Regions from separate parts of the Homo sapiens genome. Here regions 1, 2 and 4 are each reported to be linked to region 3. Evidence: microRNA targets listed by miRTarBase, many of them from high-throughput screens and not tested one by one. Region 3 holds a microRNA gene; each other region holds the end of a gene's coding sequence. Distances are from middle to middle.
What was found. Region 3 holds the annotated microRNA hsa-miR-4793-3p (UCUGCACUGUGAGUUGGCUGGCU, at 976-998, opposite strand). A microRNA usually pairs through its seed, bases 2 to 8, with sites in the 3' UTR of a target mRNA and lowers its output. Matches are read on the target gene's strand: a 7mer-m8 pairs with bases 2 to 8, a 7mer-A1 pairs with bases 2 to 7 and ends in A, and an 8mer does both.

Region 1: miRTarBase lists RSRC1 as a target of hsa-miR-4793-3p. Seed matches in the 3' UTR shown: 7mer-m8 at 1,275-1,281.
Region 2: miRTarBase lists FOXL2NB as a target of hsa-miR-4793-3p. Seed matches in the 3' UTR shown: 7mer-A1 at 2,574-2,580, 7mer-A1 at 2,526-2,532, 7mer-m8 at 851-857 and 7mer-m8 at 339-345.
Region 4: miRTarBase lists PPM1K as a target of hsa-miR-4793-3p. Seed matches in the 3' UTR shown: 7mer-m8 at 175-181.

The regions. Positions count from the first base shown.
Region 1 is chr3:158,543,978-158,547,066 of GRCh38, forward strand. It overlaps RSRC1 (arginine and serine rich coiled-coil 1), which reads left to right. Exons shown (of 10, transcript NM_001271838.2): 10 at 206-1,753. The coding sequence ends at 298. MLF1-DT (MLF1 divergent transcript) reads right to left here. Exons shown (of 5, transcript NR_104147.1): 5 at 1,243-1,600. Among named protein-coding and RNA genes, the nearest start is that of UC.134, 19 kb to the left of the region's middle.
Region 2 is chr3:138,950,343-138,953,414 of GRCh38, reverse strand. It overlaps FOXL2NB (FOXL2 neighbor), which reads right to left. Exons shown (of 3, transcript NM_001040061.3): 3 at 1-3,072. The coding sequence ends at 2,843. Among named protein-coding and RNA genes, the nearest start is that of FOXL2NB, 4.7 kb to the right of the region's middle.
Region 3 is chr3:48,643,226-48,646,314 of GRCh38, forward strand. It overlaps MIR4793 (microRNA 4793), which reads right to left and starts at 1,055; the gene lies at 969-1,055. It overlaps CELSR3 (cadherin EGF LAG seven-pass G-type receptor 3), which reads right to left. Exons shown (of 35, transcript NM_001407.3): 22 at 2,865-3,032; 23 at 2,517-2,643; 24 at 2,218-2,424; 25 at 1,810-1,984; 26 at 1,491-1,603; 27 at 991-1,070; 28 at 329-452.
Region 4 is chr4:88,259,680-88,262,756 of GRCh38, forward strand. PPM1K (protein phosphatase, Mg2+/Mn2+ dependent 1K) reads right to left here. Exons shown (of 7, transcript NM_152542.5): 7 at 1-3,047. The coding sequence ends at 2,916. Among named protein-coding and RNA genes, the nearest start is that of PPM1K, 23 kb to the right of the region's middle.

The sequences.
Region 1 (3,089 bases), 110 Mb from region 3:
ATACTAGTAGTTCTTTTACTCCAAGAATTTCTGAGCATTACTAATTCCAAATAGATAGTCATCAATTAAGAGGTCATCAAGAGTTAAACAGTATCCAAATCTTGTGTTGAGAGATATATTCTACAAAGGTGAGTTCTGTCATTTTAGGTCAAATTCAAGTTATTGGGAGACAGTAACATTTTTTCTTTTTCTTTTCTTATTTCAGTTATTTATCGAGAAAGCTGATGCTGAGGAAAAATGGTTCAAGAGATTAATTGCTCTCCGACAAGAAAGACTAATGGGCAGTCCTGTGGCCTAAGTAATATACATATAGTTGGATTGGATTGTCAGCAGTAACATTGGAAATTTAGGTTTTTAAATCCCAATATTAACTTTTTACTCTTAAAAAGAATTTTGCTGATTATATATAAAGGTAGTCTCATTTCATTTGTCTCTCATGTAGGCTTGAATATTTGTTAATTTGAATTAAATCAAACATTGTAAAAATTAAAACAAAATTTAAGATTGCATGAAAATGTTATACTGTTAATAAAGCTAAACATAAATAAGTCTGTTAAAATGAATGGTAGACACTAGTGTTTCTTAGTGCAATTCAAAAAATGTCAAGATGTCATTTAAAGACACAATTTTGATTAATTATGCATACATGAGAATTGAATTACATGCTATAAATATGAGATTTCATCTTCCGTATGGTATTCAACCATTTTTAAATATTTTATTTCACCATATTGCAAATTTTTAGGCACAATAAAAAGCACCCTAAACAATGTAAGCAGAATGTGCATGTTAAAGAACATATTTATGGAAAAAAAATTTTTGAAACTTAAATAAATTGGTGATTTTGCTTAGAGATCAGCTTCTACTAGATGCTCCTTTACAACATGTTAGCAGATCTCAGCTCATTGTTTTAGAAATCACATGTTCATGCTAGACCTAACCAGTTGGCCAAATACCTATGATGGAGAAATCATTTCTGAGAAAACTGATAAGAGCTCTCACTTCAGTCTTACTTACCCCACTGCTATTCCCTGTGGAGAAAGCCGGCTAATTGTTTTGATAAGGCTATCTGCCATTGTAGAATACCTTTCTCTAGTAGCTGAATGACAATCAACTATACGTTCCATACTAAACATGCCAGAGATAGGACTTTTAGGCCTTGCTTTACAAAACTGGTTTTTAACAGCTGACATGAATATTTCCCGTTTCTATTTTCTTTTTTTTTTTTTTTTTTTTTTTTTTGAGACGGAGTCTCGCTCTATCCCCCATGCTGGAGTGCAGTGGCGCGATCTCAGCTCACTGCAAGCTCCGCCTCCCAGGTTCACGCCATTTTCTTGCCTCAGCCTCCCGAGTAGCTGGGACTACAGGCACCCGCTAACATGCCCAGCTAATTTTTTGTGTTTTTAGTAGAGATGGGGTTTCACCATTTTAGCCAGGATGGTCTATTTTCTTCTGTTGTCCAGTCACTAATTTAGTCTCTGCGAAGACTGTAGCTCAGAACAAAAGATAAGCAAAAAAAGTCTTCAGGGTAGGACTGCCAACATATAGGACATTTTAATGCCATCTTCTTTATATTTCTGGGACATTAAAATTCAAATCTCTGTTGAAAATGAAAAATGTAAAACTTAGTTGCAAACAGTATAGAAAATAAGTGATGATGAAATATTTGTTTTCATACAAACATGCTTTCCCATTCTAAATAGATGCTAGTTTTCTTTTTTCCTTGGCTGTAAATAAAAGTGCCCCAAATGAACCGAGATTTGTGTGGTTTTTAACATAGATGTATACAATTTTAGTGACTTAAAAAGGGGTTACAGTTTATGAAATATTTTTATTTCATACTTTGTATAACTTATAAACTATAGAAGTACTATCACCCTATTGGAAAGTATATGTTAGTGGTCTGGGCAAGAATATGGGTTATCATTTGGGCCACTAATGATTCTCCAGAGGACCTGGGCTAGGCAGTTTTCTCAATATCCCTGATCTTCCTTATCTATAAAACAGTGAAAATCTGGTCTACTTCAATTATATTTAATACCAGTGTTCCTCTGTGGCAAGTACCCCAAATACAGAAGCTTGAACTGTGACAGAATTGTTTTTTGGGGTTTTTTTTGGGGGGGAGGGCGGTGGTTTGAGACAGAGTCTTACTCTGTCATCCAGGCTGGAGTGCATTGGTGCGATCTCGGCTCACTGCAAGCTCCGCCTCCCAGGTTCATGCCATTCTCCTGCCTCAGCCTCCTGAGTAGCTGGGACTACAGGCGCCTGCCACCATGCCCAGCTAATTTTTTGTGTGTGTATTTTTAGTAGAGACGGGGTTTCACCGTGTTAGCCCGGATGGTCTCGATCTCTTGACCTCATGATCCACCCACCTCGGCCTCCCAAAGTGCTGGGATTACAGGCATGAGCCACCATGCCTGGCCGAAAATCAAATTTTTTTAATGAACTAAACTATGGTCCCTACAGGAATTCGGTAACTACTTCCTTCCTCCCTAGTTTTCAACATGATTCATTTTTATATATTATTAACTTCGTTTACCTGCATTCCTATCAAAGACCACAATATTACCACACAAGCCAAATCAAATTTAATAAAAAGGACTGCATAGAACATGATCAAACATATTGCCTAATTCAAGCTAGCCTTCTTTAATATCCTTATATGGTGAGTCTATAAAACAGAATAATTCCTTTCATGTCACTTGATTAATGATAATAATTTGGACATACATGAGACCTTAAGTGTTTTACGAAACATTGATTTCTTACAAAATGATGGGTACTGATAATACAGGTTGAGTTTTCATTTCTGACAAGTAAGTATATTCTCAAGGAAAATGAAATAAGAGCATTTTTCCTGGCACTCTCTAGTTATGAGGAGTCAAAGAGCTAAAGATATGAGCACAGAATACTTTGAATCATTCACCTCCTTTGCTTCAGCATCCTAACATGTGAAATGAGGATACTAATTGCAGACCTGCCTACTTTGATTTTTCAGTAAAATGACATAAAAGAAAGCCCTTCATAGAAACTTCTGCTATTTATGCCAAGGGAACATTTGACATGATAGACATCTTAGTGAAATGTGG
Region 2 (3,072 bases), 90 Mb from region 3:
TAAGTGAAGTAACTCAAGTATGGAAAACCAAATATCCTGTGTTTTCATTTATAAGTGGGAGCTAAGCTATGAAGATGCAAAGGCATAAGAATGACATAATGGACCAGGCGCAGTGGCGCACGCCTGTAATCCCAACACTTTGGGAGGCCAAAATAGGCAGATCACTTGAGGTTAGGAGTTCAAGACTAGCCTGGCCAACATGGTGAAACCCCATCTCTACAAAAAATACAAAAATTAGCTGGGCATGGTGGTGCATGCCTGTAGTCCCAGCTACACAGGAGGTTCAGGCAGGAGAATCACTTGAACTCAGGAGGCTGCAGTAAGCCAAGTTCATGCCACTGCACTCCAGCCTGGGCAACAGAGTGAGACTCTGTCTCAAAAAGAAGAAAAAAAGAATTATATAATGGGGACTCGGGGGGGGAAGCGTAGGAGGGGGATGAGGGATAAAAGATTACACACTGGGTACCGTGTACAATGCTCGGGTGACAAGTGCACCAAAATCTCAGAAATTACCATTAAAGAACTTATCCATGTAAGCAAAAACCACCTGTTCCCCCAAAACTGTTTAAATAAAAAATAAAAAACTGACTGGGCATGGTGGCTCACACCTGTAATCCCAACACTTTGGGAAGTTGAAGCAGGCAAATCACCCTGAGCTCAGGAGCTCAAGACCAGTTGGGCCCACATGGTAAAACCCTGTCTCTACCAAAAATACCAAAAAAAAAAAAAAAAAATTAGCTGAGTGTGTTGGCTCACACCCATAGTCCCAGCTACTTGGGAGGCTGAGGCTGAGATGGGAGGATCACTTGAGCCTGGGAGGTGGAGACTGCGGTAAGCCAAGATTGCACCACTGCACTCCAGCTTGGGCAACAGAGTGAGACCCTGTCTCAAAAAAAAAAAAAGTGTTTCATAAAGTTATAGTGCACACATACACACACACATACACACACACACACACACACACCCTATCTTGGCATGAGGAAAATCTCCAAAGGTAGAACAGTAATACAAAACTCAGCCCTTCTCCCTCCCTTCCTCTGGACTTTGTGCCAGCTAGGCATCTAAAACTGCCTTCCTCCATGGCAGTTGCCTATCATCTTTAGAAAGTGCCCGCTTTGTGGGAGAAAATTGAGCCAGGAATGAGGACCAAGGGGGAAGGGCTCTCTCTGGCATCCCCTCATGGGTTAGCGTGCGGGTGGAGACTGCAGGCCTTACCTTGCAAGCCAGCTGCCCTGAATGCAGAGACTTCTCTGTTTCCAGTAAAGTCTAGTTTGAATGTTTCAGACAGGTCCTCACCATGACTGGGAACTAGGGAGGTGTCCTTGCCCTTGCCTAAGGTTCAGCACCATGGCCATGCAGCTATAATAACCCCAAATGGCAAAGAACTCTCAGATCCTGAGCTGGCTGTCAATGATCAAACCGCTTTTCCTCAGCTACAGTCCCTTTCTTGGAAATTCTAACTTCATTATAACTTCATTATAAGGAAAGTGGCATTTCCCAATTCTGTCCAGCAGAACCATTTTCTAATTCTATTAAAAGGCATTAAGCCCATCCTGGTGGGGAGCACTGAGTGAGAAGTGGAGGGCAGAGTCTCTGCCCATCAGCGCTTACAGTCTGGGTGTGGAGAAAGGCAACAAGGCAACTTTTAAGAACACATCATGTTCCCCAGCAAGCCTGAGGCCTACTGGCAAGGCACTCACTGTTCAGAGCTGAACAAAATGGCTTTGGGCCATAGATGTCATGAGGGATATCAGAGGAAACTTGTCAGCAGCTCCCACCACCCTAGAATCCGCCTCTGAGAGCATCCCACGGGTCTTTGGAGGGAAGAGGGCCTCACTTGGCCCAGGACCCAGACCCTTCTGCCTTTTTCCCAGTTGGCCTCCACCATGAAAAAGGCCGACAACTGCCCTGCATTCTGCCTGATTGACGATGGGGCACATACTCCTTGGGACAAAATGGTGTTGGAGGACTCATACCCCAACATCAGCAAGGTAAAGAGGAGCCCAGAGCTCTGGTCTACTGCCTCTCAAGCCCTTCCTGGGGGAGAAAGAGGGGAGCTCAGTGAGACACTTAACAACAGGAAACAGCTCTCATGTGTGAGTTCTTCCCAGAGTAGGAGGTCGCTTCTCTTTCCTCTTCCTCAATATCTCTCTCTCTCTCTCCACTCCCCTATTCTCTCCCAAGCACATATGTGAGTAACTGACTTTGCTAATCCCAACCAGGCAGACTAATACCCACTGGCTTCAGACCTGGTGCTATGTGGGTGTCTGCTGCTGCACCTTGTTGGTCTGAGCAGCAAACTCAGCAGAGTTTCGAGACAGAGATAAAGCCTGTGTGAGTGGCCTGTGCATGTTAAAGTGTATCTGGAACGTGCTCAGTACCTGAGCTTCTCTGTGGTCTGTGCGGCAGTCCCATCATGAAAACACCCAGGTGGCAGCCCAGTCACCCGAATCACAGGCCAAGGACATCAGAGAATCAACAGGCTTCTCGGAGTCAGGCTTGTAAACCTGGAGCCCATTGGTCCTTCTGCACCGTGAGATGCGAAAGTGAGCAGCGTGTGAAAAGCCTTAGGGTCTGCACATTGGCTTGACATGTTTTCCACCAACATGTGCAAAATCTGAATTAGTACGTGTAGCTGGTGAGTGTGAGAGAAGTAGGAGGGGAGGGAGAACTAGAGGGGATTTGGAGTTGACAGAGGGAGAAGGAGAGAGAAGTGGATGGAGTAACGTGACCTGAGTGGAGGGACACCGAGTCCCTGAGGTGTGGGTGCAAAGGGCCCTGTGAGGGGCCGGGAGGGAGTGAGTGCTGACAGTTGTTGAGGCGTGGAGTGTATGGGGATGTACTAATAGACACAGTGAAGCTTCCCTTTGCTAGCCAAGCACCGCAGAGGCCATCCCTCCAAGCAGAGGGTTGCAGCAAGCTCTATTCTCTCCCGCTCAGGAGCGGGAAGCCGCCGGGTGTTTCGGGGTCCCGCTAGGAAAGGGGACAGCGGAACCTGGTTCAGGCAGCCGGCGGCGGCGCGGGACGAGCTGAGTGGTTCTAGCGAAGCGCTGCCTGCCTCAGAGCAGCCGC
Region 3 (3,089 bases):
GGGGAAGGTCAGCAGGGGAGAGGATGGAGCAGCAGGAGTGGCTGGAGTCTGTAAGGTCGGTGTGGATCAGCAAGGGGTCGGGAGCCTTGGTGTTGGTGAAGGTCGATCCAAGATCAGCACTCAGTCTGGGATCAGTGCCTAAGTTAGAGTCAGCTCCAGGCCTGGGGGCAGCAGCTAGGGCCAGTGTCTGGTCTGGGGTAGTACCCAGCCTGGCAAAGTTATCCAGTAAGAGTCAGCTCCAGGCCTAGGGTCAACGTCTGCCTAGGGATGGCCCCAGCCTACTGAAGGCCCACCTGGTTCTGGGGCAAGGGAGGGGCACCAGAGTCACCTGGAGGCCGCAGAGTCCAGCATGGAGGTAGTGGAAGGCTAGGATGCTGTGGTTGACTGCCAGGAGCCCAAAGAGCCAGGAGGCACTGACCAGCAGAAGCAGCAGGAAGGAGCTGCGAAGGGTCCTGCTGTGGGGACATGGGAAGACACAGGAGGACATGCAAGGCTCATGTAGGACTCATGCAGGGAACACGGGAGGACACACAGGGGCCACACACGAAACGTGAAAAAAAGGAACTCACACGGGAACATGGAGGTCTCTGGAGGACACTGGGGGAGATGGGAGGTCCCACAAAGAAACAGGAGAGCAGTCAAAGAGCCATGAGGACACGTGGGGAAAACACAGGGGTATGGGAGCCACAAGGGAGGGCACGGAAGACAGGTGGGAACACACAGGGCAGGGGGCAAAGTGAGCCACCCAGGCCATGGGAGACTCTGGGGGGACCCAGAGGACAAGGAGAGACAGCAGGGCAGAAGCACATGTGGGGCTACAGTATAGCGAGGGCGCCAGAGAGGGACCACAGGTCAGGGCAGGTGTGACTTCATTCCTTCATCTAGAACTTGGAGCCCAACCTGCACCAGGGAAGATCTGGGGGCCCCAGACCCCACCCAGGAGGGACCTGCCATCCTGAGAAGCCCCCTTCCTCCAGCCAGCCAACTCACAGTGCAGAGGTCTTCTTGGCCTCCCTCTGCCCTGTGGAGCAGGATGTGCGGGCAGCGAGGAGAAACATGGTCCCGTTCATCTGGACCCACGGCCAGACATGTGGGGCCGGGCAGGGCAGAGAGAGAGAGAGAGAGAGAGGCAATGAGAGACAGAGAGAGACTAAGATTCACGGAGAGAGGCAGAACCAGTGAGAAATTCACACATATACACACACACCAAAGGAGCTTAGCATCACAGAAAAAGAAATTGGGAACCAGAGAGGGACTGAGAGAGAGAAGCAGAGACAGAGGCAGGGACAGGCAACTGAATCTCTGACCCCGCGCCCCCATCTCCATGCCAGTTGAATGGGGGTGGCTACTGACCAGAGGACAGAAAAAATGAAGGCCGAGCCCAGGAAGCCTGCAGAATGCCACCTGACCGCCCTCAGCTGAGTCCACTGCACCTCCTCCCCCAATGAGGGAGGGAAGTACAGAGGGGGCACCAAGTCCAGGGCACTCACCACTATGACCAGGACAACAGGGCCAGCAAAGCTCCAGATGAGGGGCTCGTGGACTGAGATCCAGCAGAAGTCAGGGTTCCCATAGCCCTCAGGGTCCAGGCCCACAGCAAGGCCTTGGGAAGAGAAAGGGTAGGACTGAGGGTGTGTGTTCCAGAGCTGCTGACCAGCCCATGTATGGGAGAAAGCATGGGTGAGGGCAGAGCAGCAACCCCATGAATAGATGGCTTGGGGTTTGAGGTTGGGGGTCATGAGCAGGAGTGGGGACAGGGTCAGGGGTCAGGCCATGTGATGGTTGGAGGTTGGGGGTCACAGCCCTCACCCAGCAGCACAGCAGGGACGCCCCAGCCCAGGGCATGGTAGAAGCGCATGGCGCCGCGGTCCACGTTGCGTGGCTCAACCTGCATGCGGTAGAGGTGCAGCCCCTGCACGAAGAGCCACGCGAAGGTGCTGAGGAAGAAGTAGTGCAGGAGGATGGCGACTGCAGTGCACACCAGCTGAGGGCAGGGGGGCGTGTCAGGACCTCTCCTGCCTCACCCACCTCTGACCCCTACCCCAGGCATCTGCTTCCCACCTCTCACCCCTAAACCACAATATCTTACCCCAGCATCCTGCTGAAAACCCTGGCCCCAACCTGAGCATCCCTGACCTCTGACCCTGAGTTTTGGCCCCAGGCCTCCTGGGCCAGTAGGGTCATCAGGACACAAGTTCCCTGGCCCTGATCCTGCACCTGATTGTGGGTCCTGTGAATCCCCAGCAGGAAGAGGAGCTCTGCCACCCCCAGGGCGGCTGCCACATTGGCATGGATCCCACGCACATTGGACTTGAGGCTGCGCAGGCTCAGCAGGATGGCTGCAGTCAGCACCAGCGCAGCCACAGACACAGCCACGACCACGTGGGTGAACACAGCCAGCAGCTCCAGGTCGCCCTCCAGCCTCTACAGAGACAGGGATGGTTGATGGGTTGTTGGGCAGAATCCCCGTGTCCCTTTGACCCCCCACTTCCTTGGGACACTGAACACAGCCCCACCTCACGGGGAGAGGCATCCATGAGGACCCCAAAGGTCCCTGTCCGGCTGCAGCGACACCGTGCGTGGGACCCATTCCTGTGCACCAGCTCGCAGTCCCGTGCTGTCCACACACCATGCTGCTCCGCCCTGCAGCCACAGGGCAGTTAGACACAACTGTGACCCAGTGTCAGGCAGGGGTTTGTGAGAGATCATGGGAAGGGCTGAGGGTGCCTGGAGTTGGGGTACAGCATTCCTCATGGTCCGGGTTGCACAACAGCACTAGTGGGGGCCCCAGGGGAAGGCTGGGACTATTAGTTGGCCTCCCAAGGGCTAACGGGACCAAGGGTTTCCAGAATGGGGGTCCTCACAGGCCAGGTGGGTCCCACTGCACACAGATCGCCTTGCTCCGATTCGCTGTCTGTAGCAGGCGAAACTCTAGGCTGATGGGGGACTCCAGGATTCCCCTTAGGAAGTTGCGTCCGTGGAACACAGCCACGCTGACCACCGGGGAGTTCATGACGGGGTTCTGAGGAAGCCTGGGGAGACACCCATCTGGGCTTACGCACTGCTGACCTCCCCATGCTCAGCCTGCT
Region 4 (3,077 bases), not on the chromosome of region 3:
GTGGCATGAAAAATACAAACACCAATACAGTATGTTTTATGCTTACTCAAAGTTAACTGGCTCAGAGTTTTAAAAGCTTTCCCGGATAAAGCAGAGTCAAGTCTACCCTATATCCCCATCCTATAAATTCCTCTTTGTCGAACCTGGCAATCTCAGTGAGCTATGATTGCACCACTGCACTTCAGCCTGGACAACAAAGTGAGACTCTGTAACTATAAAAAACAAAAACAGACAAACTTGGCTATCTACCTCAATCCATCAATCACCCTCATGCCTTTGAACTTGACAACATCACTCCTCATCTTAGTTTTTAAAGTAAAAGATAGGAATAGTAATGTAAAGCATTCAAAACAAAAATGAAACCTGCATATTTGTTTATTTATTTATCTGAGATGGAGTTTTTGCTCTGCTGTCCAGGCTGGAGTGCAATGGCGCGATCTCGACTCACTGCAACCTCCGCCTCCCAGGTTCAAGCAATTCTCCTTCCTCAGCCTCCCCAGTAGCTGGGATTACAGGCACCCACCACCACGCCTGGCTAATTTTTGCATTTTTTGGTCAAGATGAGGTTTCACCATGTTGGCCAGGCTGGTCTCTAACTCTTGACCTCAGGTGATCCACCTGCCTTGGCCTCCCAAAGTGCTAGGATTACAGGCTTGAGCCACCGCGCCTGGCTGAAACCTGCATCTTCAGAATGTCATTTTTGTGCGTTAGTTTTCCTTTGCCTGTTGGTTTGGAAATTCTCCATGTTCCTAAAGGTAGCTTCCACATTTCTGTTCCAAGAACTGATTAGAAAAAGCAAGATGGTTTCCCGCTTTAGTTGCCTCCCTTTGGTTCCTCACCTCTCAGACAACAAACAGAATGTTAACAGTCTTTCCTGTGATGTTTTTCCTTCTTTCACCTAACTTCCCTTGAAAAAAAAAATCAAAATATTTATTTAGCACTTTTTTCAAAGGGCAATTCCTGATTAATATAGGCAGAAAAACTCAAGATTTATCTTCTTCCATTTCCAAAAAGGTAAGAAGATGTAAATATTTATATTGGGCCCTCTCCCTCCTCATACATTTTTACCCAAAGCTTAAAGAAAAAAAAAAAAGTCAACTCAAAACACAGTTGAAGGTATATACTACATCAACTTTTTCTTTTGTTTCTGCCACAGAATTCCATGTCATTCTTAAGATTCAGTATTTTTCTCACATCCTATTACTTTATATACAAATTGCCATATAGCAATTTTTAACCTATTTCCTCATCTGCTGATAATCACTGGGTCTCCACTATAAGAAAATTGCCCCTAGTTTGTCAAGAGTCCTTAAAAATAACGTATCAATAATTTAAAACTGGTGAAAGAGCTATGCAAGATTGTTCCCTTTAATTTTATATTACTCTAAAATATACATATGTACACATACTCACACATATAACAAATTTACATAGTTTGCAGAAATAAACTACGGAAATAATTCCAAATACACATTTAGAAATTCACATTTTAACAGCAAACTTACATGCAGATAAAGAGAAGTATAGTTTTATACTTCCTAAGTTACACAGCAAGCTGAAATGGAGAATGTTTTAATGGTCATTTTAGATTTATTCTTTCTCCTAAGTCTTAGAAAATGAGCAAAAAGGAGACATAAAACTCAAGCTATGTCTATAGCAGTATCAGTCAATGTGGTATTATTTTTATTAACAAATTATTCAATTGCTTACTCTATACAAAAAGTGATATACACATACTATAATACTATATGCAAAACACAAAATAGCGTTAGAGATAACAAATGAGAACTTCATACAAAATACTTGATTCCATCAGTATTTAACTTTTGACCGGAAGACTCAGCCTGTGCATTCTTTTCTGATATTAAGGAATAGTCACATTTTTACAGTATTCTTAACTACAGAAAAATAGGAATAAATGGAGGGGAGGGCTGATGAGACAGCTGAAATACACATTTATAAATATGTATACAATTTAGTAATGTCACATCATCTGAATTAATTTCTTTTCTTTCTTTTTTTTTTTTTTTTTGAGATGGAGTTTTTCGCTCTTGCTGCCCAGGCTGGAGTGCAATGGCATGATCTCAGCTCACTGCAACCCCCATCTCCTGGGTTCAAGTGATTCCTCTTTCCTCAGCCTCCCGAGTAGCTGGGATTACAGGTGTCTGCCACCACGCCCAGCCAATTTTTTTTTTTTTTTTTTTTTTTTTTTTGGATTTTTACTAGAGACAGGGTTTCACCATGTTGGCCAGGCTGGTCTTGAATTCCTGACCTCAGATGATCTACCCACCTTGGCCTCTCAAAGTGCTGGGATTACAGGCATGAGCCACTGTGCCTGGCCAAATTAATTTCTTTTGCATGGTTGCTTTCACCAGTAAGTGGTCCAGAATACAAAATATGGTAACAGAGAACTGTTTTCATACTTATTCCTTGGTACAGTTATTAAAAATAAAAACTCGCATTTTAGGATTAGGGAAGTCTGGAAAAAAATTTTTTTAAACTTGGAGATCACATATTGAATAGCTGTCAAAATTCAAACTGACTAGTTTTGAAGAACTTCAAAAACGTGTTCAAATGAATAAAGAACAAAAATGATCAAAAGAAACCCATAGCTGCCTAAGAGTCTTAAAAATTATTAATGTGACACTCTCATCTCTCATCAAGTGTATCCAAACCACTTCTCATTTGCTCTTTCCATTTAAAGACTCACAGTAGCTTCACTACACATATATTTATACTGAACATGTACAGCGGAACATAAATATGATGAGCATTTATGAAAAAACTACTATCTAAGTGGTTTACACTGACTTGTGCGCTGATCTAGTGAGTTAGGAGACCTTTTTGATCTTATCAGTTTCTTGACATGCTCAGTGAAAAACTGTTGCACAGAAACTCTAAGTCCCAGCTGGTAATCAGGCCCATCGTCCACTGGAGGCAAAGCTTCTGCTGAATGAGAAGTTGATTTCAGAGTTCTTATATTTTCCCCAGGCACCAAAAGGCACTACTACTGCAGTACTGTTATCCTCAGTACCGTACTGTATTGCCTGCAAGGTTTGGCAGGAAGAAAGAGAAAA